Regions from separate parts of the Homo sapiens genome. Here region 1 is linked to region 2. Evidence: fine-mapped expression QTL. Tissue or cell type: putamen. Region 2 holds a variant in brackets; the other region holds the start of a gene. All regions are shown on one strand. Distances are between the middles of the regions.

The links. PIP is the estimated chance that this variant, and not a neighbour inherited with it, causes the effect.
Region 1: TBC1D2 starts here. The variant in region 2 is fine-mapped to the expression of TBC1D2 in putamen (GTEx, PIP 0.96).

What each region holds. Positions count from the first base shown.
Region 1 is chr9:98,247,952-98,263,737 of GRCh38, reverse strand. TBC1D2 (TBC1 domain family member 2) reads left to right here and starts at 8,089. Exons shown (of 13, transcript NM_001267571.2): 1 at 8,089-8,565; 2 at 11,812-11,953. The coding sequence starts at 8,197. RefSeq lists enhancers at 7,365-7,854, 14,075-14,991, 14,992-15,786 and a silencer at 8,025-8,074.
Region 2 is chr9:98,177,005-98,191,950 of GRCh38, reverse strand. The region is part of intron 1 of CORO2A (coronin 2A); the gene reads left to right. Among named protein-coding and RNA genes, the nearest start is that of CORO2A, 8.2 kb to the left of the region's middle. RefSeq lists an enhancer at 1-461. The variant A/C (reference allele first, on the strand shown) is at 3,457.

The sequences.
Region 1 (15,786 bases), 71 kb before region 2:
TTTTTTCCCTGGAGCAACCCTGAGTATGTTGGTGTTGGTGCAGATGTGGGATACCGAACTAAAATTTTTCCATCATTACGTTCAGTCTTCACAGACATCTGGCAGGATGCCCTGAGGAGTATTATAATCCCTATTTTACAGATGAGAAAGCCAAGGCCCCTAAAAATTGCAATTGGCAAATGAAAATTCCAGTGGCCACGTTTCTTGACACCCAACACCCCAGCTGAGGTTTATGCACTCTGGCCCTCTCCCCAGTCCTCATAGGGAGGTGGTTGGGGGCAGGCTTTGACTATTTTGCTTTTTGGAAATTGATTTAAAATATTTTATACTAAATTGTCTGATATGAACCCATATTTATTTATGTGTATAGAGCAAGGCTTCAGATAAATTTCGTGGGTGCTCTAAGCCACTTTGGGCTATGTCTGGAATGAGTTTCCTAAGGAAGCTCACTCCATTGTTTAGGGTGTGTATTAGTTTGCTAGGGTTGCCATAACAAGGAACAGATTGGGTGGCTCAAACAACAGAAATGTATTCTCTCACACTTTGGGAGGCTAGAAGTCCAAGATCAAGATGTCAGCAGAGTTGATTTCTTCTGAAGCCCCCCTCCTTGCTTTGTAGATGTGTCTTCACATGGGCTTTCTTCTGTGTGTCTGTGTCCTAATCTCTTCTTATAAGGACTCTAATCATAAATAAATAATTTATGGACAGAATCTTGCTCTGTCGCCCAGGCTGGAGTGCAGTGGCATGATCTTGGCTCACGGTAGCCTCCGCCTCCCGGGTTCAGGCAATTCTCCTGCTTCAGCCACCCAAGTAGCTGGGATTACAGGAGTGTGCCACCCAGCTAATTTTTGTGTTTTTAGTTGAGATGCGGTTTCACCATATTGGCCAGGCTGGTCTCAAACTCCTAAACTCAAGTGATCCGCCCACCTCCGCCTCTTAAAGTACTGGGATTACAGGCGTGAGCCACCATGCCCGGCCTCAGGCTTTAACAAATGAATTTAGAGGGACACGATTCCCCCTGTAACAGGGTGGAAACATTGAGAAGCCTGCATTATCCCTTCCAACTTTTTCCTGTGAGAATGATAGAGTTCTAGTCTGTGTCCTTATATCTACAGCATCAGAGAGTTTAACATGTGTCTTTCTTTCTCTAAGAAAGCTTCCCAGTTAATCTGCTATTTGTGTGTGACTTCTTGCTTGCATTTTATGGAAGTGGAGCTGGGAGAAATGATTTCTGATCCCCATTCTTGAGGTAAGGAATTATATTCAACTTTAAAACAACTTAAATACAGGAACAGATGTATACTTATAAGTACATTTTTTTCCTTAAAAAAGAAGGAAATCCTGCCTATTTGGGACAACATGGATGAACCTAGAGGACATTATGCTAAGTGAAATGAGCCAGACACAGAAGGGCAAATGTTGTGTGATACCAGTTATGTGAGGAATCTAAAATAGTTGGACTCAGAGGAGCAGAGTAGAATGGTGGTTGCTGGGGGCTGCGGGGAGGGAGAACATGGGGAGGTGTTGGTCAAAGGATATAGTTTCAGTTATGTGGGATGAACAAGTCCTAGAGATCCACTGCACAGCATGGTGTCTAGAGTTCACAATACCATGGCGTATACTTAAAAATGTGCTGAGAGTAGATCTCATATTAAGTATCATCATGAAATAGCGATAATAATTAATAGTAACAGGAAACTTTTGGAGGTGATGTATATGTTAATGGCATTAATTGTGGTGATGGTTTCACAATTATATACTTATCTCCAAATTCATTACATACTTAAATATGTACAAATTTCTGTATATCAATCCCACCTCAATAAATTTAAAAAAAGAAAAAATAAAAAGAAACTCTGGACGAGGGATGGTGGCTCACACCTGTAATCCCAGCACTTTGGGAGGCCAAGGTATGTGGATCACTTGAGGTCTGGAGTTTGAGGCCAGCCTGGTTAACATAGTAAAACCCTGTCTCTACTAAAAATACAATTAGCCAGGTGTGGTGGCAGGTGCCTGTAATCCAAGTTACTTGGGAGGGTGAGGCAAGAGAATTGCTTGAACCTGGGAGGCAGAGGTTGCAGTGAGCCGACATCATGCCACTGCACTCCAGCCTGGGTGACAGAGTGAGACTCTGTATCCAAAAAAAAAAGAAAGAAAGAAAAGAAAAGAAACTGGCTGGGCACAGTGGCTCACATCTGTAATCCCAGCACTTTGGGAGGGTGAGGTCGGAGGATCACTTGAGCCCAGGAGTTCGAGACCAGCATGGGCAACATGGCAAAACCCTATCTCTACTAAAAATACAAAATTTAGCCAGGCGTGGTGGCAGGTGCCTGTAGTCCTAGCTACTCAGGAAGCTGAAGTGGGAGGATCACCTGAGCCTGGGAGGTCAAGGCTGTGGTGAACCATGATCATGCCACTGCACTCCAGACTGGTGACAGAGTGAGACCCTGTCTCAAAAAAATTAAATAAATAAAATAAAATAAACTTTGTACCCATTAAACAGTAATTCCCCATTCCTCCCTCCCCCAGCCTCTGGTAACCTCTATTATACTTTCTGTTTCTATGAGTTTGCCTCCTAGGTACTGCATCCATGTTGTAGCATGTGTCAGAATCTCATTATTTATAAGACTGAGTAATATCCCATTGCATATATCCTACAGTTTCACTTTATATATGTAATTATCTAATTTACCTAAACTCTATTTTGATAAATAGTGCTATGGTGTAAATGTTGGCGTCCCACTCAAAATTCATATGTTGGAACCTAAAACCCAATGTGATAGTATTAAGAGGTAGAGTCTGTAGCAGGTGATTAGGCCTTGAGAGTGGAGTGCTGATGAATGAGATTAGTGCCTTAGTAAACGAGGCTTGAGGGAGTCTGTTTGCCCGTTCCACTGCGTGAGGAGGCAGCAAGTAGGCGCCATCTTTGAAGCAGAGAGCAGTCCTCACCAGACACTGAATCTGCTGGCACCTGGACCTTACACTTCCCAGCCTCCAGAACTGTGAGCAGAGGTTTCTGTTGCTTACAGAATACCCAGCCTAATGTGTTTTGTTATAGCAGGCTGAATAGACTAAGACAGATGCTATAAGATTAATATATAAACTTAACTGAATACGTATATTTTTGTTTTTCAGAACTTTGTACTTGGCTCTATTGATGTGCCTGTCCATGTGCCAAAAACACCGAATTCTGTTGCTCCTGTAATACTATTCACTTTCTTTCTAGCACGTAGGAGACTCTGGAGGTTACTATGTTCATTTACTTCTTTACCTGCCTATTACCCACCTCCTTTGACTAAAATGAAAGCTCAATGTGAGCCGTGACCTTGTCCCACTCATGACTTATCCCTAACATTTTAAATGGTGACTGATGGAAAGTGCTTACTCAATACTTGTTGGCCAAATTACTAAATGTAAATGTCTGGTAGGTTAAATCCTTTCTAGTTGTCCTTTCTCTCCAAAATGTTGGCAACTCTCACTTGTTTACTTCTGAAAAAGTAAAACTTAAAGCTGGGCACAGTGGCTCAGGCCTGTAATCCCAACACTTTGGGAGGTCGAAGCAGGAGGATCATGTAAGCCCAGGAGTTTGAGACCAGCCCGGGCAACATAGTGAGACTGCCATCTCTACCAAAAAAAAAAAAATTTTTTTTTTTAATTAGCCAGATGAGGTGGCATGTGCCTGTAGTCCTGGCTACTCGGGAGGCTGAGGTAGGAGGACTGCTTGAGTTCAGAAGGTCAAGGTTGCAGTGAGCTGTGATGATTGCACCACTGCACTTCAGCCTACCTGGGCAACAGAGCAAGACCCTGTCTCAAAAAAAAAAAAAAAAAAAAATGGAAAAGAAAGGGAAGGGGGAAAGACAGGAAGGAAAAAAAGAGTATGTAAGAATCATTTTAATAGGCTGCAAAAATTCCTATCAACCCCTCCAGGAGGTGGAGCTACTTATAAGGGGGGACTGAATTTAGCAACCCAATTCCAAAGAACAGTGTGTTGAAATGAAAAGGAGCAGCTTTATAGCAGAGAAATCTGGCAGACCCTACCTTATCCAAGTGATTAACTTTTCTTGTTATTAAAACCACCACTCCCGGCCTTAACATCCTTTTAAAATGAGAAAATTTAGGCCGGGCATGGTGGCTGATGCCTGTAATCCCAACACTTCGGGAGGCCGAGGTGGGTGGATCACCTGAGGTCAGGAGTTCGAGACCAACCTGGCCAACATGGTGAAACGCTGTCTCTACTAAAAATACAAAAAATTAGCCGGGTGTGGTGGCGAGCACCTGTAACCCCAGCTACTTGGGAAGCTGAGGCAGGAGAACCGCTTGAACCCGGGAGGCGGAGGCTACAGTGAGCCGAGATTGTGTCACTGTACTCCAGCCTGGGCAAGAAAGCAAGACTCTGTCTCAAAAAAATAAATAAAATAAAATGAGAAAATTTAAGCTACACAACTTAACAGTATAGGAACCATGCAGATATCATGTACTCTGATGTTGTGATGAGACGGGCACCTCACCTCTGTGGTAGTCTTCCCCAAAACATAACCTCAGTGAAATCATGAGACAAACCCAAAGTGATTGTATTCTACAAAACACCTGACTAGTATTCTTCAAACTGTCAGGACCATGAAAAACAAGGAAAAACAGAAATACGTCACAATGCAGAGGAGACTAAGGGAAAATGATGACTAACTATGGCATCTTGAATGGGATCTTGGAATAGAAAAAGGCTATTGGTACAAAACAGACAAAATCCAAATAAAGACTGTAGTTTTGTCAATAGTTTTTTTTTTTTTTTTTGAGAGGGAGTCTCGCTCTGTTGCCCAGGCTGGAGTGCAGTGGCACGATCTTGGCTTACTGCAAGCTCCGTCCCTGGGTTCACGCCATTCTCCTGCCTCAGCCTCCCGAGTAGCTGGGAATATAGGCGCCCACCACTACGCCCGGCTAATTTTTTGTATATTTAGTAGAGACGGGGTTTCACCATGTTAGCCAGGATGGTCTCGATTTCCTGACCTCGTGATCCACCCACCTCGGCCTCCCAAAGTGCTGGGATTACAGGCGTGAGCAACCGCACCCGGCCTTGTCAATAGTTTTGTACCAATGTTAGATGTTTATTTTTGCCAAACATACCAGGATTAAGCAAAATGTTAACATTAGGGGAAACTGGGTGTAGGGTCTACAGAAATTCTCCCATTGTCTCTGTAACTTTTTCTAAAACTATTCAAAAATAAAAAGTTTTTTTAAAGCCTATCGAGGCCAGGCATGGTGGCTCACACCTGTGATCCTAGCACTTTGGGAGGCTGAAGTGGATGGATCACTTGAGGTCAGGAATTCAAGACCAGCCTGGCCAACATGGTGAAACCCCATCGCTACTGAAAATACAAAAATTAGCTGAGCATGGTGCCCTGCCTGTGGTCCCAGCTACTAGGGAGGCTGAGGCAGGAGAATAGCTTAAACCCAGGAGGCAGAGGTTGCAGTGAGCCGATACCGCTCCAGTGCACTCCAGCCTGGGTGACAGAGCAAGACTCTGTCTCAAAAAAAAAAAAAAAAAAAAAGCCTATCGAGAGTTTGATTGAAAATGTATTAACTGTATGGATTAATTTGAGGAATGTGACATCTTTACAATATTAACTCTTCCCACTCAGGGACATATTTGGTTTGTCTTATATCCTACTATAAAGCAATAAGGTATTCATTATGTAAGTCATTTATGTAAGGGATGTTGTCCATTATATTTTCCATTTGTTTGCTGCTGGAGACATCTATACACATATGCACAGTTTTTTAAAACAGGCCACCACTTGAGTTTTTCTGGTATACGTAATATATTTATAATTATTCTTTCAAATATTTATCATTGCCTAGCTACAAAACCTAGAACAAATAAGGTATGCTGTTTGTTTTATTAAGAGGTTTTAAAAATCAGGAATGGGGCCAGGCACTGTGGCTCATGCCTGTAATCCCAGCACTTTGGGAGGCCAAGGCCGGTGGATCACAAGGTCAGGAGATCCAGACCATCCTAGCCAACATGGTGAAACCCCGTCTCAACTAAAAATACAAAAATTAGCTGGGTATGGTGACGCGTGTATGTAATCCCAGCTACTCGGGAGGCTGAGGCAGGAGAATGGGAATTGGAGAGCATGCCACTGCACTCCAGCTTGGGCGACAGAGCGAGACTCTGTATCAAAAAAAAAAAAAAAAAAAAAAATTAAAAAAAAAGAAAAGAAAAGAAACTGGCTGGGTGCGGTGGCAGGAGAATCGCTTGAATCCGGGAGGCGGAGGTCACGGTGAGCCGAGATCGCGCCATTGCACTCCAGCCTGCGCAACAAGAGCGAAACTCTGTCTCGAAAAGAAAAGAAATATTTTGTCCCACATTCTGTACTAAGAGCTTCACACATATTATTTTATTTAATTATCAAAACAACTCTAAGGGTAGACAGGTGTAGATCCAGGTTTTGTGGGGACTGGAATTAAACAGCATTAAGGGCCTTCTGATTTTTAAAAAATTACAAAATTATGAACACAAAATTAGGTATGACGATGGTTATTTAGAATGAGAAAATAAATTGTAAATTATAACAAATGAAGAGCTCTCTGGCATTTAGGAGAAATGCTCCCTGGTTGCAACTCCCCACCTGTTAGACTACAAATCCCAGCGACCCATGCAAGTGAACATAAATTTCATTAGCTTCACCGTAAAGTTGTCTGGCGGCGGGTCGGGGGTGGGTAGGAAGAAGTGTTATCTCCATTTTTAGGTTGAGCAAATCACTCAGTATTGCAGAGTGGGAATCTGAAAATTATGCAAATAGACTCTAGAGCCCTCGCCTTTACCCCCACCCTGCTTCTTGTCAATATCACTGAGTGTGCATGAGGGTCTCGTTAACGACGGCTGAGGGGGAGACGATGAAGTAAGAGGAAAGGCTGAACAAAGGGCAAGAGAAAGGCAGAAAGAAGCTCCTAAAGAAAGCTGGACGCAATTGGGCTCCGCAACCCTAATGGAGAAATGCGCCTTAGGAGGGAAGGGGAGAAGTTTAAGGGGAAACAGGTAAAATGAGGCAGAAGTTGAGCAAGTTAGTCAAACCCTAAATTCTTTTACTTATTTACAAAACAGCCTGGCGCGGTGGCTCTCGCCTGTAATTCCAGCACTTTAGGAGGCCGAGGCAGGAGAATCGCTTGAGGCCAGGAGTTCAAGACCCCCCTCTCTGCAAAAAACAATTTAAAAATTAGCCGGGTGTGGTGGTGCGCAGTTGCGGTCTCAGCTACTCGGGAGACTGAGGCGGGAGGATGGCTTGAGACCGGGAGGCGGAGACTGCAGTGAGCTCTGATCGCGCCACTGCACTCCAGCCTGGGTGACAGAGCCAGACCGTCTCTAAAAATAATAATAGCAATAACAAAATAAAAATAAATGTACTGCACCCAACTATGACCCAGGAGTGGCATGGGTTTCCGCAGCGCAGCGGCCGCGCCTGGGCGCCCCAAGCAACACAACCAGCGCTGTCAGGAGGCGAATAGGAGCCAGGACAGAGAGCTGGGGAGGCCACTGCTGTCAGGCGAGGGATAAGAAGGCCGTCCGCGGCGTCACTGACGGGGCTGAAGGAACACCAGGAGAAGAGTGGCAGACAGCTCCGGAGCCGCGCTGCCCGGGCGACGCCGGAAGATGGGCCTCCCAGCGGTCTTCCTTTCAGCCAATGGCCGCGAGATGCGCCGTCCGAGGGTGCCCCGCGCGGCACAGGGAGGGAACAAGCAGCCCATCGGGTGCAAGAAAGCACTATCTTTCTAGGTGACTATGCGAACTACCAGGGAAGTGTAGCTAGGGACAGGCTTCTCTGCCCGCGGTTAACCTAACTCAGTGCCACCACGCCTTTAACCTGAAGCCAGGGAGCACGGCTGCCCTCAGTAAAGATGGCTGACTGGCGCGGAGAAAAAGCCGGAAGCAGCTGGGCTTTGCAGGGAGCCGACTGAGCGCTGCGGGGGCGTGGCCTGGCGGTGGAGGGGCGTGGCCAGCCGCCGTAACCTGGGTTTGCGATCTTTGAGGCGCGCGCACCGCACCCGGTCCCGACTCTGTGGCTTCCTGGGGGCGGGTTCGCCGTCGGCCCCGCCCCCGCCCAGGTGTCTCCCTTTGGGAAGCTGCCCGCCGAGTCTCCGAGATTTGTCCCTGGTGGTCCCGCGGACCCCTCGTCCCTCCGCAGTCTCCGGCTGGCAGCGATGGAGGGCGCTGGGGAGAACGCCCCGGAGTCCAGCTCCTCTGCCCCTGGGTCCGAAGAGTCTGCCAGGGATCCACAGGTGCCGCCTCCGGAGGAAGAATCGGGGGACTGCGCCCGGTCCCTGGAGGCGGTCCCCAAGAAACTCTGTGGGTATTTAAGTAAGTTCGGCGGCAAAGGGCCCATCCGGGGCTGGAAATCCCGCTGGTTCTTCTACGACGAAAGGAAATGTCAGCTGTATTACTCGCGGACCGCTCAGGATGCCAATCCCTTGGACAGCATCGACCTCTCCAGTGCAGTGTTTGACTGTAAGGCGGACGCTGAGGAGGGGATCTTCGAAATCAAGACTCCCAGCCGGGTTATTACCCTGAAGGTAAATTCCTGCAACGACTTTCTCCTTTCCAGCGGCGTGAGGTCCCCTTTTCGCAGGGCAAGGCTGGGCGCGAGTGTGAGGTGGACACAGTAAATTTGGAGTGTCGGTGACGACAGTTCCAAGAACTTTGTGCTTTGCAAAGTGCATTCCCACCCATTTCCTCATTGGGTTCCCACAAGGCAGGGAAGACAGACCCATTTTACGGATCAAGAAACTGAGTCAGAGGGAGATGAAAGGACTGGCTCGAGGTCCATGCGTCTAGAGAGTAGGGTAGCTTGGAATCCCATAGTCTTTCTACCTCTCAGTGCTGAATCAAAACTTTTACTTTTGGGTGTGCCTGACAGTGCAGTTACCTTAACTTTCTTACCTGGGACCTAAGTAAGTCAAAATATGGTCTTTGCAATCCTCTCTCAAGGCCAGGATTCTGATTCCCGTTTCTTGATATTTTGGCCAAGGTCAGTGAATGCTGAGAAGAGACTGGCAGGGATTAGGAAAATAAACACTTAGGTTTCACTGATCAGCCTAGATTGTTCATCTAGGCATGCTTAAACCTGTTTTCCTATCAGCAGCAAGGGGTAGGTTTTATCATCATGTGTAACTGAGAAAGCCTAAAGCAGTAGAAAGGCCACATTCTTTGAAATCAGACGGGCTTGGATTCAAATTGTACATTTGCTACTTACTAGCTGTGTGACCCTGGACAAGTTACTTAACCTCTCAGAACCTAGGTGGTTTGTAAGCATTTGACACATCACAGGCATGTACAAATTGTTGAATTAATTGCATCACCTAGAATACAGCCTGGTACCTAGTGGAGTACTTAATAATTTTTTGTTGCATAAGCACACATGCACACACAAGGTGATGGAACCAAGGTCAGAGTGCTAATGTCAAGAGGAGGTGTCCCATAACTTAATTGGAAAGACAGATCTGGGCTAAGTGTTCTATGGGCATCAGAGAAGAATGTGCCAGGAGATAGCCTTCCCCACCCCATCCCCATCTGTCCACCCCTCCAACCCCAACTCCAGCTAAGTGGGTATCTGTGGATGCCCACGTGTTCAGTTCTCCTTTACTGACTGGACTTGGCGGGTGACCAGGCTGGGGGACTTGGTTAAAATAATGAAACTCAGGAATCCCTGGCCAGGGAAGGCATTTTCGAGGTCATGTGGTTCCCGGGTCTATGTGTCTCTTCCACAGGTTGACTGCTGTATGCAGGGTCTTCAACACATGGTCTTTATAATAGTATTCCATTGTTCCTGGCTCTGCGCTTGGCGGGGTGTGGAGCTAATGCACCCCCACCCCTGGTTCTCTGACAGCTTAAAGTCTGGTGGGAGAGACTGAGGGAGAACCTGCATGCACCCTGAAATGTTCTGTAGAGACATGTGATAAGTCTGTGCAAGAAGGTGTGGTGACAGGAGGAGTCAGTTCCACCAAGTGGAAGGGGCTAGCCAGAAAGGCATCTGGAGGAGGGACACACCCAAGGCTTGAAAGAAGAAATAGGTGGCAAGCAGACAAGAGGGAGAAAGGTATTCCAGGCCAAGAGAGCACCGTGAGCAAATTAGGAAACCATGATACAGCCCTGAGTGTCCAGGCAAATCACATGAGCCAGAAAAACAGAGGGGCCCAAAGGATGGAGTTGAAGAGCAGAGGCCCGAGGGTGGGGAATTGGCAAATTAGGCCAAGTAGCAAAAGCTCAGTCTGACTATTGGATAGAGAAGAAACTAGGGGAAGGGCAAGGCTGGTACTCAGGGAGCCCATCAGAAGGTGATCAGAAGAGAGTGACAGCTGAACTAGAGCTGTGGCTGTGGGGAAGGGGACAATGGAGGTGTCTCGGGATAGTAGGGAAATAGAATGAGGGAGATGTCAGGAGTGGCTGGAGTAACTGGCTGACTGCCTGGTTGGGTCAGTCACTGACAGGAGGGAACTCAGGATGAGGAGCCCATGGAACATCCAGGTACATGTCCCCTGCAGGAGACTCTCAAGTTCCAAGGGGACAGGGACCATGTGTGTTGGCTCACCCCTGTATTCAGTGCCTAGCACTATCTCTGACACATATGTCAATGCTCAGTATACCCTTGTCAAATGAGTTAATAAAATGGGGTATTTGGGTTCGGCTGGAGCTCATCAGCATTAAGGTCATGGGGAAGACCTGGGAGGTGCTGCAGTCTCTCTGAGAGAGTGTATGGAAAGAGAACACTGGTGGGCATCATTTATCTTATTGATACCTGTGTGACAGCCTGAGGGTCACTTTCACAGACTCCCCCCTGCATAGTGCACACCAGTGAACCCCTGAGATAGGGAGTTTGCCTCTGTTGCCATGTAGCCCGCTGTTGTTCTCATGTGGCCTTGATTGCAGGCAGCTCTCTGAGAATCCCCATCCACGCCCGGTGAGCTGTTCATCTTCTGCAGTCCACCTCAGCTGATCTCAGGCCTTCTTTATGAAGCCACTAATCTCCTGGCCATAAAATCCAACTTCTAGACCAGGGTTATGGGACTAGTTCTACCACCACATGCCTGGGCAACTTCAGAGGTTTAGTTTCTCCATCTGTAGAAAGGGGTGCTCACTCCTGCCTTGCCTCCCTCCTGAAGAATCCAGGAGTTATTGGATGTGAAAGTGGATGTTTGGACCAACCGCCAGCCAGTGCTGGGAGACTAATGACCAGCATTTACCATGAACTTGTTTGGAGGGCCAGAGCACCTGGAAGGTGCCACCATGTTGTCACATGTGCATGTGGCTTTCCAGTCTCCATTCATATCCATGATTCCAGTGCATCCCCAAGGCAAGGATTACTCCTATTCCACAAAAGGCAGCAAAGACTTGGAGATGTCACACAGAGATAGTGATGGTACCAGGACCCCACGCATATCAGAATTCAGTGCACCTCCCCCTCTCACAGCGCCTCCAAATTCCTCTATCCAGTGAGCACATTTTGAGCACCTACTGTGTGTCAGATACTGTGTGATACCCTTGTCTCATTTCATCCTCATCATTGTCCTATGCAATGAGACTTATTGTCACCAGAGTACAGATGAGGAAACTGAGGCCCAGAGCAGCTAAGGAACCGCTGAGTGGGAGACCAGAGCCTGATGATCTTCTGTGGCCAGGAAGCATACATACCTACAGTGACCCCCTTTTTTTTTTCCTGGGAAAGAAAGCATTCCTAAGCCTCCCACAACCTTCCCCTCTTCCTGCACCCAGTGCCACCCTTCAGGCACAGGGCCTTGCCAACTAATCCTTGTGCTTCTCAGGCCGCCACCAAGCAAGCGATGCTGTACTGGCTGCAGCAGCTGCAGATGAAGCGCTGGGAATTCCACAACAGCCCGCCGGCACCTCCTGCCACCCCTGATGCCGCCCTGGCTGGGAATGGGCCCGTCCTGCACCTCGAGCTAGGTACCCAATGGGCTACCCTCCTGCCTGCACACCCAGGGCTCTGGTGATTAAGCCTTTACCCTCCTGCTGGGAATGAGCGGGAGGAGCCCTCTGCTAAGGAAGCAGAGAGCCAGGGATATGACTCAGGATTAGTTAGGGCAAGAATTTGGGCTGAGGCCAGGCTGCCTGGGTTCAAATCCTAGTCCTATATAACTTTAGGCAAGTTGTTTAACCTTTCTGAGCTTGTTTCCTTCCCCATAAGATGAGGTTTATAAATTATCCCTACTTCTTAGGGATGTTTTGAGGATTAAATGAATTCATATACCTAAAATGGTTAGAACAATGCCTGCACATGGTCAGAACCCAATACTTGTGAGCTACTATTGTGATGACTATTATGGAAGGCCTCAAGAAATCAAACTTTCACAGAATTGCTGTGAGGAGGGTTAATAAGAAAATGCAGTGTTGTAGATTTGTGTCGTGAGTTGGGTAGATCAGTGACTTTTTTTTTTTTTGAGATGGAGTCTCACTCTGTTGCCCAGGCTGGAGTGCAATGGTGCAATCTCGGCTCACTGCAACTTCCGCCTCCCGGGTTTAAGCAATTCTCTGCCTCAGCCTCCCGAGGCAGCCTCAGCTGGGATTACAGGCACGTGCCACCACGCCCGGCTAATTTTTGTATTTTTAGTAGAGATGGGGTTTCACCATCTTGGCCAGGCTGATCTTGAACTCCTGACCTCGTGATCTACCCGCCTCAGCCTCCCAAAGTGCTGGGATTACAGGCATGAGCCACCATGCCTGGCCAGATCAATTATTTTTATCGCTGGTGTTCCCATAAGATAGGATCCTTTTCCCCCAGATGACTCACAAATGAAGTTTCTTGATCCCAAATCCTGGATCATCCCAACGTGGAAGAGTCCAGGAGACCACACCCTCCCACCCCCATGCTGCAGCCAGGAACATGATTGGCAGGTTTTAGGATCGGTATGGACCACCTCACAGCTGCCCCTGCAAGAATGTGGAAAATCAGGTCCCAGTACAAAGCCACACTGTGTCTAAAGTGCTTCATGTTCAGTTGACAGGGAGGCCAAATAGGCAAGGGCAGGACTTGTTACCAAGTACCCCCTGGACCTCTGTACCTGGGTGCTTTGCATGTCCAAAGCTGAGTACATCTGCCCCAACCCTTCTCCCCATTTCCCTTCCCTCCTCTCAGTAGATTTCCCCTCTTGTACCCACTAGTAGTTGCCCTCCACCCTTCCTCAATTCCAGCCAGTGAGTCCAGTCAATCACTGTGCTGGCCATTTTTGCCCTCTGACCCATACATCAGACCCAGGCCTTTCTCGCTGCCACTGCCCAGGTCACACCTCATCTCTCAAAGTCACAGTGGCCTCCTCTCCAGTATCCCCATGTGGAGGCCATGCCAGAACCCATCCCCTTCTCTGCAGCCTGAGTGAGCTTTCTTAAACCTGACCCTGAACCCGGTCACTGCCATCCAATGCCACCCACCACCTCACTCCTGCACTCAGGGCTCATCCCTCCTGATCTCACCTCTGCCTGCTCCCCCAGTCCCCACCTTGGGCTTGATGCTTCGGCAGAGTCTCTGCTCTCTCTCCTTTGCCTGGCAAATTCTTGCTTATTCTCTATGGCCAAGCTCCAGCATTGCCTTCTCTTCTTGCCAGCCTCCTCCTGGAAGCCTTCTCAGACTTTGTCAGCTGGATTCTCTCTGGGCCCTCAACACTTTTTTCAAACACTTCAAGGGAGACCTGTTCCATTGTGTTCTATTAATAATTACCCCCGTCCTTGTCCATCTCCACCCGCTAGCCCTTAAGGGTGGGGACTTTTTTTTGGTTGCCTGTGTCACCTCCCTGGTGTCCTGCCTGGCACATTGGATATTTGTGGAATGAATGTGTAAGTCAATACACTAAACTTTATAATTAAATGAGGAAAGGAATGTAAACCCCTTAGCATAACCTCAGGCACATAGTAAGTGCTCAATACATGGGAGTTGTCCTAATAATATTGTTATTCTATGTCTATATGTCTGTGCATAGAACACACCCATGCTATTACTATCATAATAGTATATACACAAACATATATAGGTGCTGTTACTAGTATAATAACTGTTCCTTTTATTCTTAATAATCATTAGTAATTTCTTTGGAGTTTCTTTTGAAGGGTTTCTTTGCTTCTGCTCCAGCCCCCACTCCCCATCTGCCAGGGAGCCAGACAACCCTGGTTTTGCAGAAAACTGCAGCCTGGGTTGATGCTGCTGCAAAGATCAGCATCAGACTAGAGGCCAGCAGAAACCTCTGCAATAATAGAATTCCTGTGTCTTAACTGAAATTTGAAGAAGCAGATTGTGGAAGAACGGCTCTGGGATCCTCAGACCTCTTCTGCTGTGGGGAACCTGTTGCAGGTTCTTTAATTGTGCGGCTTTGCTTCAGCACACACGGCGGGCCTCTTCCAGGCCAGCCCCTGCTGTGGGCATTGGAGAAAGGGGTGGAGTTGCTGTGATGACCTGGGTTCTAGTCTCCTGAGGAGGATGCTGCCTGAGACTCAGGAAGCAGGGACGTGAGCTTCTCCTCTTGAAACCTTTCCTCGCCTTGCAGCAAGCCTGCACTCTCCTCCCAGACCCAGGGCCTGGCAAAACCTTCCCAGCCCACCTAGAAAGATGTTTCTGGTGTCTTGGGCAAGTCAGCAAGGCCTGGATTAGCCACGTGGAGCAGGCTGCCCCACCTCGCCCGCCTCCACCCTTCCTGAGGAAGCAGCGGCCCGCTCCCATGTCGTTGAAAACCTCCTGACCCATGTCTGACTTTGAGTCAGAGACTTCTGGTAAAAAGTGTCTCGTCACTGCTCTTGAGCAATCTGCAAGGCATGTTCTCTCCTGCTTTTAAGGATTTACAACTTTATTTTATGCTTTACCTAAACAACGGTCTCCGCAGAGCCAAGAAAGATCAAAGGGAACCCACGAGACTTATAATAATAAGAATAGCAAGTTGCCACAGTAAGCTACAGTTTACAAAGGACCTGTATAAATGTGTACTGTCATGAAATATGCCTGCTGCCCCAACACTTTACATGCGTCATCTTATTTAATCCTCACAATAATTTTATAGAGTAGTTAGTGCTATTTCCATTTTATAGACCAGGAAACTAAGGCTCAAAGAGGTCAAGAGACCTGTCCTAGGTCATGTAGTAAGAAAACATCAGTGCTGAAATTCAAACCCTAGGCTGCAGACTCATAACCTGCCCTCCCAAAGCTAAGGGGCAGCCAGGCACTCGTCCAGGGCCCTCTAGGGAGGCAGTGACCTCCTGGGTCAGGCCCTTTTTTTGTCTAGGCAGCGCCTTCTTCCCACTGGTGGTGGGGCAACCCTCAGAGCTCACGTAAAAGGAGAATTACAAATAAATGCTGCTGAAAATCCTCTGTGTGGTCACTCATGGAGGGCATTTCTCCAGGGTGCCCCAGACTGCAGCCTCAGGTCATTGATTCTGCCTCCTGTGGGAAGTGCTGGTCTCTGTTGGGGCATCGCCATCCTGTGCCGCCCGTGCCTTGCACACTCCTTTGCATTGGGAGCTTGTGCCTTCATGGGCAGCCCCTCCTGTCTTAGATGATCTGCTTGTTAGAAAGGCTGCTCTGATAAGCCACATTGTTTAATGGGAAAAGCAAAAGTAGGGACGTGTTTGAGTCTATAACGGTGTCACCTGCTAGCTTTGACTTTGGCCACAAAACTCAACCTCTCTGAGTGGCTATTTCCTCATTGGTAAAACCTACCAGTGATGACAACCCCCAGGACTTGGCTCTGTGTAGTCTCAGAGTTGATCTAGGCCCACAGGTGGCACTTACAAGAAAACAG
Region 2 (14,946 bases):
TGCCTGGACCAGCCCCACGTAGGCACCTCGATTTAGAGAGTGGTATAGGATAGCTCCTTCCCCTTCCCCACCCGGGCCAGGTGCTGGTGCCTAGCTCTGTGTCCCAGAGCTAGTGTGTGATAAGGTGTGACACACACTAGCTGGTGTGACAAGGGGTGACTGGCGGCCACGCCTGGACCTCAGAGGGGTGACAGTGCCAAGGTGCTGTGTCCGCGTGGCATTAAGGGATGGGGCAGAGCACAGGTCTGAGGGACTGTGGTCCCAGGCTCCCTAGGTAAAGAAGACCTATGGCATCTGGCCCAGCCCCTCTGTAAGATCCCCTCTGGAAGGTCTTGCTGCCCCCTTGCACACTCCTTGTGATAGGAATCTCACTAGTTGTAAACCAAGCTGGAATCTGCTACCCAGTCACTGCCTCTCCTGCTGGTCCTGCTCTGGACACACAAACAACCTCTGACCCTTCCTCCCTCACCCTGGGGCAGTGGTCAGGTCCCTTAAATATGCTCATCTCCAGACCCAGCAGCCCCAGGCCCAGCAGTTTCTCCCATCAGATCCCAGGGAGCCAAGGCAAGAAGAGGGAGCCGAGGTGTCTGCCCTGGAGCAGGCTGTGGGGCCTCCGCTTTCCTGGGGCTTGTTCAGAACCCACCTGTGCATCAGGACTGGAATGTGTCTCCCCAGCTTCCTGCCCCTCCTGGGGACCGTCTGAGAGGTCCGGAGTGAGGAGAGCCGGAGCCCCTCTGCAGGCCTTTCCTGCCCCATGGGGCCTCTTCTCCACCTCCCTGATGCCTGCCCTGTTTGAGGGAGCAGTTTCTAGGAATCACTTCTCAGCCTCCTGGTCTTTCTTGTCCCCTTCATGACCTGCCCTGCACCCAGGGATTTTCTTAACAGCCAAAAGAGGGCAGGAGGCCCCTGGACAGGTAGTGAGCTCTTTGTCATCACAGGTATTCAAGCAGAACCTGGGGGTGAGCTACCTTGGACTGAAAGTCTATGGAATTCTAGGGCTGAAGTAGTGCCTATGACCTTGCCCTGCGGCCATGGTGGAGCTGCACAGGACTGGGAGCTGGACCACAAATGAGTGTTATTATCCCCTCGTAAAAGCAGGCAAAGTATATGTGCTGGCCCATGAGCCCAGCTCCGACGCACAGGCTTAAGTGCTACCTGGGTCTCCTGTCATCTCGACACATGTATAATCTGGGCCCTGTTTTCCTGCTTGCCTAATTCAAGCCTTTTTGGCCTGATTTAGGAGCATGGCAGATTCTGGTTATTAAAAAGTCATGCTATGACTTTAATTGCTAATACTTTTTAAATGCACCATGGAATCATGGAATGTCTGAGCTGAAAGGAGCCTTCAGACGTCGTCTCATTCAACCCCCTCATTTTACAGATAGGCATCCCCTGTCGCCAGAGGGGATGTGACTGGGCAAAGGTCACACAGCAAACCAGCAACCGAGCCCAGGGATCCTGATTCCAAGATTGGAGTGCCTTTTTTTCTCCAAAAAAACACATAACATATAATAAATGAAAGCAGTCTGTATTTATTCCTGTAAAATTAGCAAAAATAAAAATAAAAAGATGAAACTCTGTGCTGGCAAGGCTATAGGGATTCGCCTGTGGCATTTAATTTTGCAGAGCAACCTGGCAGCCTGTTATCATGAAAATGATCATATTTGCCCTTTGCCCTTAGCCGGCTACTTTGGGGACTTTATCCTAAGGAAGTAACTAGGGAGAGAGACATATGTAGTGCTGTTATTTGTAAGAAGTTGTCTTCTGGCCAGGCACAGTGGCTCATGCCTGTAATCCTAGCACTTTAGGAGGCCAAGGTGGGCGGATCACCTGAGGTCTAGAGTTTGAGACCAGCCTGGGCAACATGATGAAATCCTGTCTGTACTAAAAATATAAAAATTAGCTGGGTGTGGTGGCACATGCCTGTAATCCCAGCTACTCGGGAGGCTGAGGCAGGAGAATCACTTGAACCCGGGAGGCAGAGGTGGCAGTGAGCCGAGATTGTGCCACTGCACTCCAGCCTGGGCGACAGAGCGAGACTCCATCTCAAAAAAAAAAAAAAATAAAGGAGTTGCCGTCTAGTGAAGAAGTGTTCAGTTTTATCTGAGGCTTAATAAACATTTCATTTGACAAATACAGCTTAAAAAATAGTGGCACTGAAGCTTACATTACCGGAGTCTGGCCAGCATAGAAACAGTTTAATCCAGAAGAAAGACCATGAGACTAAAGTCAGCAGACATAGATTCCAGATTGAAGTCTTCCTCTTCCCTACTGTGTGACCTTGGGCCGATCCGTTCCCCTCTCTGGACCTCACTTTCTCCATCTGTGAAATGGGGGTAGACTCAGCAGTTGCTGAATTTGTTTGAGCTCTGACAGCCAACCTCTTAGAGTGAACAAATCTCAGTAGCAAAGCCGAGATTGGAAGGAGATTCATTAAATGAATCCCCTTAGAGGCAGGTAGCTAGCTCCCCACCGAGGGGTTTCAGCCTTAAACCTTTGCTATTTCAAAATGGCCAGAAGCTGGATCGTTTTAGAAGTTGGTGTGTTTTTATCTTCTCTGCCAAATCTCAGGAGGTCCAGAAAATAATTCAGCAGAATCTTCTTGTGTTTTAAGTCTATAATCCATGCCTTGCCTCCTTCAGAACAGATTGGACGTGCTTTGCAATCACACCTGGTCTAAAGGGCCAGGAGTAGGTGACTTTGCTTCTGTGGTCAAACTGTGCCTCCTGGGGGTCTGCAGGCTGCTATGGGAAACTTACTAGGTTAAACCACATGAAACGGCCAGTATGTGACTTTTTTTGACTTACAAGAAATGGCAATTTCATTTGGTTCAGCCTAAATGGAAAAAGATATACAGGTATTTAAAGAGCGGTGTGCTCCTTACTATAATTGAGAGATTGGCAGGGTGTGGTGGGGACAAGGAAGGTGTGATTATGAGCTTGCAGAAGTCAAGGAGGAGGGACATGGGAGCCTCACTTTGAAGAATCACTAACAGTAATAATAATAGCTAACATTCATTGAGGGTTTACCGCCTGCCTAATTCTGTCCTAAGTGCTTTATGTTCATTCATTCCATTAGTCATTCAGCCAGTATTTATTAAGCACCTACATTGTACTAGTTTTTTTGTTTGTTTCTTTTGTTTTGTTTTTGTTGTTGTTTTTTGTTGTTGTTGTTGTTTTCTGAGACAGAGTCTCGCTCTGTCTCCCAGGCTGAAGTGCAGTGGCATGATCCCGGCTCACGGCAACCTCCGCCTCTGCCTCCTGGGTTCAAGTGATTCTCATGCCTCAGCCTCCTGAGTAGCTGGGATTACAGGTGCGTGCCACCACACCAGCTAGTTTTTGTATTTTCAGTAGAGACGGTGTTTCGCCATGTTGGCCAGGCTGGACTCGAACTCCTGACCTCAAATGATCCGCTTGTCTCGGCCTCCCAAAGTGCTGGGATTACAGATGTGAGCCA[A/C]CACACCTGACCTGTACTAGGTATTTTCTAAGTGCTGGGGAAAGGGGGAAGGCGCTGATATTAAACAAAATAGACCAGAAAGATCTTCCCCCAAAGAGCTTACAATCAGATGGGGGGAAGACAGATGAAAAACAATAAATAAAATAGATGAATAGGTGATAAATAAAATCAGTGATAAATGAGGTGGAGCAAATAGAACATAGGAGGGGTTAGGGTGTGTGAGGGGGCAGTTTTAACTAGGGTGGGCTGGGGGCCTCATTGAGAAGGTGATTTTTAGGCAAAGGCTTGAAGGAGAGGGGTGAGTCAGGCTCATTTCTGGGGAAACAGCCATTCAGGTGGAGGGAACAGCTGGGGCAAAAGCCCTGAGGCAGGACCATGCCTGGCATGTTCAGAGAAGCACGAGCTGGGACAGAGTGATGGCGGGAGAAGAGGAAGAGAGGAGCAGGCAGGCCCTGGGCTAGACTGTGTACCCCACCATGCTCATAATGGAATCCTGCGAGTGTATGACGGAGCTACTCTTTTTATCCCGCTTTTCCAATTAAGAAAACAAAAATACAGAAAAGTTACATGGCTTATTGAAACTGTGTCTCATGGAGAATCTAGGACTTTCAGCCAGGGTCAGCGGGGAGCCATGGAAGGCTTTTGAATTGGGTAGGAACATGGCCAGATTTGAATATTGGTGTGATTCCTGCGAGATTGCTATGGTCTGAATATTTATGTTCCTCCAAAGCTCATATGTTGAAATCTTACCCCATAAGGTGATGGTATTAAGAGGTGGGGCTTTTGAGAGGGAATTAGGTCAGGAAGGCAGAGCCCTCATAATGGGATTAGTGTTCTTATAAAAGAGGCCCCAGAGAGACCCTCACCTCCTCCACCACATGAGGACACAGTAAGAAGGCGCCATTCTATGACCCAGGAAGTGGGCCCTCACCAGACTCCAAATCTGCTGTCTTAGTCTTGGACTTCCATCCTCCTGAACTGTGAGAAATACATTTCTATTGTTGATAAAGCACCTACATTTTTTTTTTTTTTTTTTGAGATGGAGTTTCGCCCAGCCGCCTAGGCTGGAGTGCAGTGGTGTGATCTTGGCTCACTGCAGCCACCGTCTCCCGGGTTCAAGTGATTCTCCCATCTCAGCCTCCTGAGTAGCTGGGATTATAGGTATCCGCCATCATGCCTGGCTAATTTTTTTTTTTTTTTTTTTTTTTTTTTGAGATGGAGTCTTGCTCTGTCGCCCAGGGTGGAGTGCAGCAGCACGATCTCGGCTCACTGCAAGCTCCACCTCCCGGGTTCATGCTATTCCCCTGCCTCAGCCTCCCCAGTAGCTGGGACTACAGGCGCCCACCACCACGCCCGGCTAATTTTGTTTTTGTGTTTTCAGTAGAGACGGGGTTTCACAGTGTTAGCCAGGATGGCCTCAATCTCCTGACCTCATGATCTGCCCCCCTCAGCCTCCCAAAGTGCTGGGATTACAGGCGTGAGCCACCGCGCCTGGCCAAAGCACCCAATTTATGATATTTTGTTGTAGCTGCAGCAACGGACGAAGACAGGTGCAGAGAGATGGCTGTAGAAATAGTCCAGGCCTGGAGTGCTGCTGTGGGACCTGGGCAGTGAGCTCAGTGCTAGGGGAGAGGTTGGGGTCCAGGCCAGGTGAGCAGGAGGAGGATGAGGAGGAAGCCAGGCTGACCCTGGGCTTATATATTTAACAAACACTTATTAGCACTTCTTACCACCATCTAATATTTTATATACGTTAACCCAATCCCCATAACAACCTATAGGGTACATACTGTTTGTTATTATTTCTCCCGTTTTAAAATGGATATATTATATGTAAATGATATCTCATGAAGTTAATTTACAAAGAAAATACATTTTTAAAATTATAAACACTTGATAATGGAGAATTTCAGAAAAAGGCAGGAAAACAGACAAAATAAATTACCCATATCTTCTCCTCTTCTCATCCCACATAATCAATATGAACATTTACTTTCAGTCTTTTTTGTACTATCATTCCCATTTTATAGATGACAACACTGAGCCCCAGGGAAGTTGGGTAGCTAGCCCAGGATCATACATTCAATCTATGTCATCTGCCACCAGTGTCCAGGGCTTAATCACCTTCCCCTGCTGCCTGTAGTCCATCCCTGGAATGTCAGAGTTGGTGGGTTCCATTAAGATACCATCCCCCAAACCTAGCCCCTCCCCCCGCCAGCCACCCCTCTCCTGGCATCATTTCACAGATAGGTAAAGTAAGGCCCAATAAGAGATGGGGCCTTGCTCAGCATCTGTCAGCCAGTCAGGAGCAGATAGGTGAAGTCTCATTCAAATAAGAAATCGGGAGCTGAGCATTTGTGCAGGGTTGATATGACAGCTGCTTCTAGCCTGGCCTTGAGCCTGGAGTTTGTAGGGGCCCTGGCAAATGGCATGACCCTGCCCACAGGCAGTGCAGGGGCAGGCGTGTGTTCCCTGGGCCCAAGAGTCTTGTCCCTCTAGCCAGCCCTGGGTGGGAGGTGAGTTTGGGGCTTTGCCCACACTGCAGGTCCCCTGAGAGTTGTCTCCTGTACTCTGACTGTGCATTTATTTCTGGCTCTGGTGCCAGCAAACTCCTGGGGCTGCCTGCTGCCAGGGATGCAGCCCTGGCTTCTAGCCCCATCTCAGACACTGAGTGGCCTTGGGCCAGGGTCTCTCCTGGCCCACCTGCAAAATGGCATCATAACGGCCCCAGCCACAGGATGAAGTAAGAAGTGCAAGGGAAGTTCTTGCACAGGGCGTGGTCTATGGCGTGCTCAATAACTGGGCAACTCCTGTGGCTGTTCCTAAGGCTGCACCACGGTGTTGGCCCAGGCTGGGGAATTGAGCCCACTGCAGACAGAGCCCCCTCCTGCCAACCTCCCTTTCACACCTGGCTGACCAGGTAGACCTGCCTGAGAAATCAGATACGAGCCTCCAGCAATGGTTTGGAGTCTAAGATTGCGGACAACAAGGGATGCAGTGGAGCAAAAGAACCCAGGCCTCTGAAGAAGGAGAGCTGACCCCGCTGCTGATATGCTCCTTAGGCAAGTCTTGACCCTTCTTTATGACTCAGTGTCCTCATCTGTAAAAGGGGAAGAATAATTCCTGCCTTAGTCATTGTAATGATCTTCACCCCAGCAACCACCTATTGATGTTTTTCTAATGCTTGGGGAGTGTGAATGCAGACAAGCTAGACCCATCACAGCCGTGAGGGCCCATGGCCTGGCAGGGGCACTACAGTTATCATAGGGAAGCCCAGGAGCTGTGGGGCCTCCAGGAGGGCACCTAACCCAGCCTGGGGTGGAAGTGGGGGGTCATGGAAGGCTCCCTAGAGGAGCTGATGCCTGAGCTGGGTTGTTAGTGTGATTTGGAGACGGCCAGACTATGAAGGGTAGAAAAATAAGGGAAGATATTGGGTCAGTCACTCCACTTCTCTAAGCGTCAGTTTCTTCATTTATAAAATGAGGATAATAAATACCTGTTCTGCCTAATGTATAAGCTTGTTGTAAGGCTCTAAATTGGATAAAAGTAAGGAGGCGCTTTATGAACTACAAAATGCCAGGCACCTACCTATTCATTATTCATTGTGATTTCTGGAGCCCCTAGGGGTTAGGGAAATATCAGGCCAGCATCTGGGGCTGGGAGAACTTTCAGTTGGTTTTGAAAGGGCTACAATCAAATCGGACAGAGACAGACAGCCGCCATTAACCACACACCCCTTGATTTAAGTGCTCTGGAGTATTTCTGTGCCTGGGTGTGGCTTTGTTTGGTGGGGTCCCCGAAGGCAGCCATGGCCCCATCACAGATCACAGCCCCACTCTGAGGATGAGGAGGAACAACGTCAGACCCAAAGCACTACGTCCCTGTAGAGGCCTGGGACCTGCCAGGGATAGGGATAGAGGACGGGAGCACTGTGGGGCCGCCATGAAGAAACCAGTCTGTTTAGAGAGAGGGCCACCATGTCACGGTAAGAGAAAGAGTAGTATGTGTGGAATGAGACTGTTTGGGTTTGGATATGAGAAAAGAATCTTTCCCTAGCATGCAGACATAGCAAAATATTCAGACAGACATCAAGCTAATTATCACTAGGTGGTAGAATTTTGTTTTCTTTGGTCTTTTCTACATTTAAAATGTTTTGGCTGGGCATGGTGGCTCCTCCTGGTAATCCCAGCACTTTGGGAAGCCAGGAGTTTGAGACCAGCCTGGGCAACAAAGTAAGACATTGCCTCTATTAAAAAAAAAAATAAAATAAAATAATTTTATACTTGATAGATAATTTATTTCTGTAAAGATTTTGGTGATATGTGTGCAGTCATTCCTAAATATTCAGCTTCCAGGACACCCAAGGATATCAAAATCTGTGGATATTCAAATCCCTGATATAAAATAGTATAGTGTTTACATGTAACCTACACACACCCTCCTGTATACTTTAAGTCATCTATAGATCACTTACAATGCCTAACACAATGTAAATGCTATGTAACTAGTTATTATACTGTATATACATATTTTTAAGACAGAGTCTTGCTGTGTCACCCAGGCTGGAGTGTAGTGGCACAATCTCAGCTCACTGCAAACTCCGCCTCCCGGGTTCAAGTGATTCTTGTGCCTCAGCCTCCCAAGTAGCTGGGATCACAGGCATGCACTACCACACCCAGCTAATTTTTTACATTTTTAGTAGAGATGGGGTTTCGCTATGTTGGCCAGGCTGGTCTCGAACTCTTGATCTCAAGTAATCTGCCCGCCTCAGCCTCCCAAAATACTGGGATTACAGGTGCAAGCCACCATGCCTGGCCCATTGTACTGTATTTTTAAATTTGTATTTTTTAATTGTTGTATTGTTATTTTTCCTTAATTTTTTCGAATATTTTCCATCTGAGGTTGGTTGAATCTACAGATGCAGGACCCACAGATACAGAGGGCCAACTATGTATGCAATACAAGTTATAATGATATTTAGATAATAAAATACTCAGGCCGGTCTGACATCAGCAGGCTGCAGGGATGAAGTCAGCACTCACAGCATAAGGACTTTGGTAAGGCCTGGATGACATCCCCAGTGCTGGCCTTCGGAACAGTTGGGAGCAGAGTCCAAGGATGGCTTGATGGAGTCACACTGGAGGAGATGTCTGTGGGGGTTTCTGAAGGTGGGAACTAGGACTCTTTTCTTGGGACAAAGACTTGGGGTTTTGGGTGGCTGCAAGCACAGTAGCATTGTGACCAAACTGTCCAACTGTGGAACCTACCACATCAGTAGCAACAGAGGGTTGGAGGCAGAGGTGAGGGTCCTGCTGAAGTTTGGGCCGCTTTCTGAGCAAGACTAGGACAGCTGAGACAGATCCAGAGGGGCGCCAGGCCGGGGAAGGGCCTGAGCCTTCAAATTCCGTGAAGCTCTGGAGATCCAGGGTGAATGCTAGGCCTCAATAGACCCTTGTCCCTTAACGATTTGTGTTCTTGGTCTTTGATCCCATCTCACAGGCGTTTCAGCCTCTTTGCAAGGGAAGTAAAGAATCTAAGCTACTGCGGTATTTCATTCAAGGCAGGGCTTATCTGTTGTGAGATGTACCCTTATTTTAGAATCCATTAAGAAAGAAAAAGCAACAGAAACTGTAAGTTGCATCCCAGTTTCAGAGATGTTAAAATGTAAAAAGCTGTCTTGGAATCATTTGACATGTGGCGGGTCCCCAATTAGACTCTTAGTGTGCATTCACTCATGGAATCTTCACCATCGCATTGTAGCTAGATAGTCTTGTCCTCTTTTTACAGATAAGGAGGCAGGAGCCCAGAGAGGTTGAGTAAATTTGCAAGGTCACGCAGCCAGCAAGAGGCAAAGCTGGGCTTTGAACCTGGTCTAATTAGATTCCACTTCTTTTTCCTCATCCAACCCCACAAAGAAAAGGCTCCTGAGTCCTGGCCCTTGGGAAGAACAGAATCTCCACAATGCCAGCTCAGAAATGCTCCAGTGGCCTGGTCATTAAAAGCCTGGTACTCTGAGTAATGGGGGTGGGGAGTGTGGAGGAGGGCTGGGGAGATAATGAACAGGAAGGAGCTTTGAGAGCTTGCTGGCAGGGTCACTAGCCTCATCCTTGTTGAAACCATTGCAGGAGTGGCTCGGCCTGTGTGGCCTGCCCTGGAGAAAGACTGTAGAGATATCTGCCCCACACAGATAATCCTGGAGCCTCACCCAGACTGACCCATTCATTCGCTCCCTAAAAAGTTATCTTTCAATGTAATTTTTTGACTAGGACCTTTGTTCACGATTGATTACTTTCTGTATGTAAAGCATTAGAGATACCAAGCACAGCAAAACAGACACAGGCCCGCCTTTGAGGGCTCACAGACCAAACGAGAGATGGACAGTAATCGTAGAGTCCCACAGAATCTGGAGGAGGAGAGAGGAGTGAAGGGCGTGCAGAGTAGAGAATGTGCTGAGTCCGGGGTCACTGCAAAAGGCTGCAGTCCAGGGCACAGATGGTGCCGGTCAAGGAAAGGAAGGTATTTGGAGATGAGATGGCTCTTTTAAGGAGGTGAAACTGAGTCTCAGAGAGGCCATAGGACTTGTCTGAGGTCACACAGCTTGGAAGTGACTCTCCTTGTATGGTTTTCTTTGTTGCGGGTTCCTTTCTTGAGTTTTCCTTTGGAGATGAAAACATGATGTGAGGGGAGCCATGGCCTGCGAGGGGATGGATGGGATGTTCTAAGGAAAGGACTTTGAGCTGAGATCTGAAAGATGAGTAGGGACTGAGCAGGCAAGGGTGGGGAGGGAGGCACGCTGCATAGGAGAAACAGCCTTGCCAAAGCCCTCCGGCTGGAGGAAACAGGACTTTGAAGAACTGAAAGCACCGTGATGTGTGCAGCTCAGATCCCTGGGCAAGGTGAGGCTGGGGAAGTAGAACAATGGCCGCCGAGGGGTCTGCTCACGTTTACATATTTCGGAAAGATCAAGGGCAAGATGGTTGGTGGCTGAGACTAAATGACCAAGTTTAACAGATGTTTGGAGCCAGGCACCGAGGCTCACGCCTATAATCCTAGCACTTTGGGAGACTGAGACATGAGGATTGCTTGAAGCCAGGAGTTCCAGACCAGCCTGGACAACATAGTGAGACCTCATCTCTTAAAAAAAAAAAAAAAAAAAAAAAGCAAGAGAGAGAGATGATTTGAAGGTGGGACAGGAGGCTGGGATTAGTGATGGATTGGCATTGGGTACAAGAAGAAGGAGGCCACGTGGGTGCCCGTGGGTTCTGGCTTTTCCGGCAGTGCCCTTCTCATGGCCTGACTTGCAGAGGGAGTCGCGCTGGGGGACACAAGCAACATGGGAGCAGCCTTCACCCCACTGGGGCCTCCTTCCCAGGGCTGGTTATTGTCCACCATTTTCCTCCCAACTGAGCTTAGATATCCAGGTTCACCCAGTGCTGGGGTTTGCCAGATGATGTGAAAAAAAAGTCAGTGGCGTGAGGGATTTTAGGGTGTTGATAAGAGTGAGCTGATGTCCCAGGTTACTGGGGACAAGAAATGGCCTTCCACAACATGCCCATGGAAATCACATGGCCCCCACACCATCCCTGGAGCTGGTCTTTCAGCAAAGGTGTTGCTGAGCATGGTGGTGGAGTTGGGGCATTGCTTGATGCATTGTGTCATCCTGGAGAGGGGTCTCTGGTTGTGGCTTCCAGGGCCCTCTACTCGAGCCTGAACCTGTTTTTACTGATCCATCATTGGGGACACTGGCAAAGGGCTGGTCACATGTGGCAGGTGACAGGAGGCTGGAGGTGGGGAGGGTGCGGTCAGGAGGGGTGCTTGAATTAGTGACTTTGGAAGCAGGTGGAGCATTTTCACCTAATGACAGAGTTCACTGTGCAGTCAAAAGAAGGGATGGTGCAGGTCAAGGAAAGGAGGGTATTTGGAGATGAGATGGTTCTTTTAAGGAGATGAAACTGAGGCTCAGAGAGGCCATGGGACTTGTCTGAGGTCACGTAGCTCAGAAGTGACTCTCCTTGTATGGTTTTCTGTGTTGCGGGTTCCTTTCTTGAGTTTTCCTTTGGAGATGAAAACGTGATGTGAGGGGAGCCATGGCCTGCGAGGGGATGGATGGGAATGCTTGCAGGAAGACTTCCTGGAAGAGGGAGCACTTCTCTAAGCTGAGCCTTGTAGCAGCCGGTCATACAGAGTGGTGGATAGGGCATTACTGGCAAAGGAAATGATGTAACCCAAGGACTGGAGAGGAGAAAACTTACTAGGCCTATATGGGATGCGATGAACGTAGGGTCTGGTTTGGCTCAGTATAAGAGGCAGAGTATAAGGTATTTGCCAGACGCCAAGGGCAGGGAGGTAGGTGCAGCCTGCCCTGTCAGGGAGGAGCGTTTTAGCACTGACGCACTGACGTTGTTTAGAATTGCAGGCACATTATGATCGTAAAATGTCAGACTTTGAGGCAGTTTTTTTTGCTTGCTGTTTTGTTTTGTTTTGTTTTGTTTGAGATGGAGTCTCACTCTGTCATCCAGGCTGGAGTGCAGTGGCGTGATCTCGGCTCACTGCAACCTCCGCCTCCCAGGTTCAAGAAATTCTCCTGCCTCAGCCTCTTGAGTAGCTGGGATTACAGGCACCTGCCACCGCACCTGGCTAATTTTTGTATTTTTAGTAGAGACGGGGTTTCACCATGTTGATCAGGCTGGTCTCAAACTCCTGACCTTGTGATCTACCTGCCTCGACCTCCCAAAGTGCTGGGATTACAGGCAAGAGCCACCGCGCCTGGCCTATTTTTAATTTCTCTGTTGAAAATGCACTTCCTGAGTGTCTGCGCCCGGCCGACTGCTCACCTCCCTCCTGCCCTCATCCCTGCCACTTCCCCTTCCCTGCTTGCCTCACATCCCTTCTTGATATACTCCTGGGCCACACCTTGGCTTTGAATCCCCAGCTGAGAAGCTATTGAAGGTTTTGGAATAGAGGATGCTGCCATCTACCAGTAGCCCAAGTGGGGTCTCAGCTTTAGAGAGGTGGGATCTGAGATGAGGACAGCCTGGAGGAGGCAGGAAGGACCTGGAAGATGGGGAGGATGAGAGATAGGAGCAGGATTGCAGGTCATTGCTTCATGAGACCCAGGACCCATGTCCACAGCTGCCCACCAACACGCCAGGCCCAGGCCAGCACAATGCTGGGCAGCAGGGTCTCCGCGTCCTGCAGGGTCACTGCTGTGGCTGGTAGGCAGAGGCAGAATCCTCATGCTCTAGCGGTCCCAGATCTCAGACACTCAAGTAGGACCTTCCAGAGCCTAGGGAAGGGTTTCTTCCCAGTCCGCAGATGTCAGCGAGACTTTACCGGCACTCAAACAGCAGCCCAAGAGCTGGTTTGATTCGTTCCATTTTACAGATGAGGAAACTGAGGCTTCAGAGTGAACCCAACCAAGAGGCACAGTAAAGTAAAAGGACCAGTAAAGTAAAAGGACCGGTAAAGAGCTAGACTGTGACCACTTTTAGCAGCCATTTGTAGCATCAAGGCCTAGAGATTTGCATTCTCTCCAGGATCTGCCACTGACCAGCCAGGTGACCCTGGACAAGTCACATCCCTTCTCAGGTTCTTGTTTCCTCACCTGCAAAGTGAAGGGTAGACTAGATCATTTCTGCCATCCTTTGAGCTTAAAAATTATCTCCGACTCTCTTCATCTTCTATCCCAATTGCCTCCAAAGTGATCTATGCAAGATGCACATTGGGGTGCAGGAAAAAATATCTAAACAAATAGAACAAAGAATTCAGCTTTAGTCACATTTGCCAGGTGGAGACACACTCGCCAGCTGGGGTGTCAGGCAGCCTCATGTGGTCCAGGAGTCTCCTGTCTCATGTGGTCCAGGAGTCTCCAGAGAGAAGGGGAAACACTCTGAGAAAGGGTAATGAGGACTCCCTTACTCTTTAGTCTGTTTTTGGCAAGTTATCCCAATTAATTAACCTGGTTTATTAATCCAGGTTAATCCAGACTAATTAATCCAGATTGGATTTACAAATTATATTCACCACTCTAAGCTAACTAGCGCTTACAGAATGGACACGTGGTTTTTAAAGATTCGTACTGAAAAATTGTGACTTGTTAGCAGTGCTTACTTACTATGCTAATAATGCTAGTACATGAAGACAAGGGAATGGAAGAGGTTGAGTGCTGGCCTGTAATCCCAGTACTTTGGGAGGCCAAGGCGAGAGGATCACTTGAGGCTAGGAGTTTGATACAAGCCTGGGCAACATAGCAAATCCCCGCCTCAAGGAAAAGTTTAATAATTAGCCGGGCATGGTGGCTCATGCCTGTGGTCCCAGCTACTCAGGAGGCTGAGGCAGGAGGATTGCTTGAGTCCAGGAGTTGGAGGCTACAATGAGCTATGATGGCACCACTGCACTCCAGCCTAGGCGACAGAGCGAGACTCTGTCTCTAAAAAAATGTTTTTAATAAAAATAAATTTAAAAAAGAAAAAAAGTGAGAGAATTAACACTGGGGTTTCTATTGCAGTCACTTCATCAGCTACAAGACCCAGGACAAAAACAGTGACAAGCTAATAAGTCTGACAAGTTTGTCAGCTCAAGTTTGTTTGTTTGTTTATGTTAGGGGACACTTTGAAATAGATATTTACAGTCACTCTGGTTAGTGATGAATCTCACTCTGTGTATACGTTTTGTCTTGCGAGGTTGATGATGATTACTTGTATATAATATAAGATAATGGGGTGTGAGCACAGTTTGTTTTTTTTTTTTCTTGTGGAAGGAGTGAATGATCAAAAAAGTTTGGAGATCACCTGAGGTCAGGAGTTCGAGACCAGCCAGGCCAACATGGTGAAACCCCATCACTATTAAAAATACAAAAAAATTTGCCGGGTGTGGTGGCACATGCCTGTAATCCCAGTTTCTCTGGAGACTGAAGCAGGAGAATCGCTTGAATCTGGGACACAGAGGTTGTGGTGAGCCAAGATTGTGCCACTGCACTCCAGCCTGGGTCTCCAGCAGAGCCAGACTCTGTCTCAAAAAAAAAAAAAAAAAAAAAAACAAAGTTTGGAGCCCATTGCTCTAACCTCCTGGTCTTTTCCTTGCTCCTGCTACCTCTAACACGCCACCACGTTTGTGATCAAGCGTTGCTCCAGTAGGGATTTCCCTATTTTTCTACCCATTCCCAAGGGGAGAGACCCCATGGGAATACCTCCATCCACAGAGCCCAGCACAGGGGCTATCTCCAGCTGGGGACTTGGAAAATGTGGGTGGAGTGAATGTGCTCCAGGTTTCCCCTCACATCGTGGGGGCTGCTGATGCTCTGCCGGCCTTTCTAGCAGAAAAGACCTAAGGTCTGCCATCATTCCCAGCCTAAAGCACTCTCTGGAGAAACACAGTTCACCTTTCAAAGGTGTGAGTCCAGGAGAGCCTAGATAAGGCCAATGACCCTTGAGCTCACAATTATAAGGCCTTTCTTTCCTAACCATCTTTGGAATTTGTCCCTCCACAAAC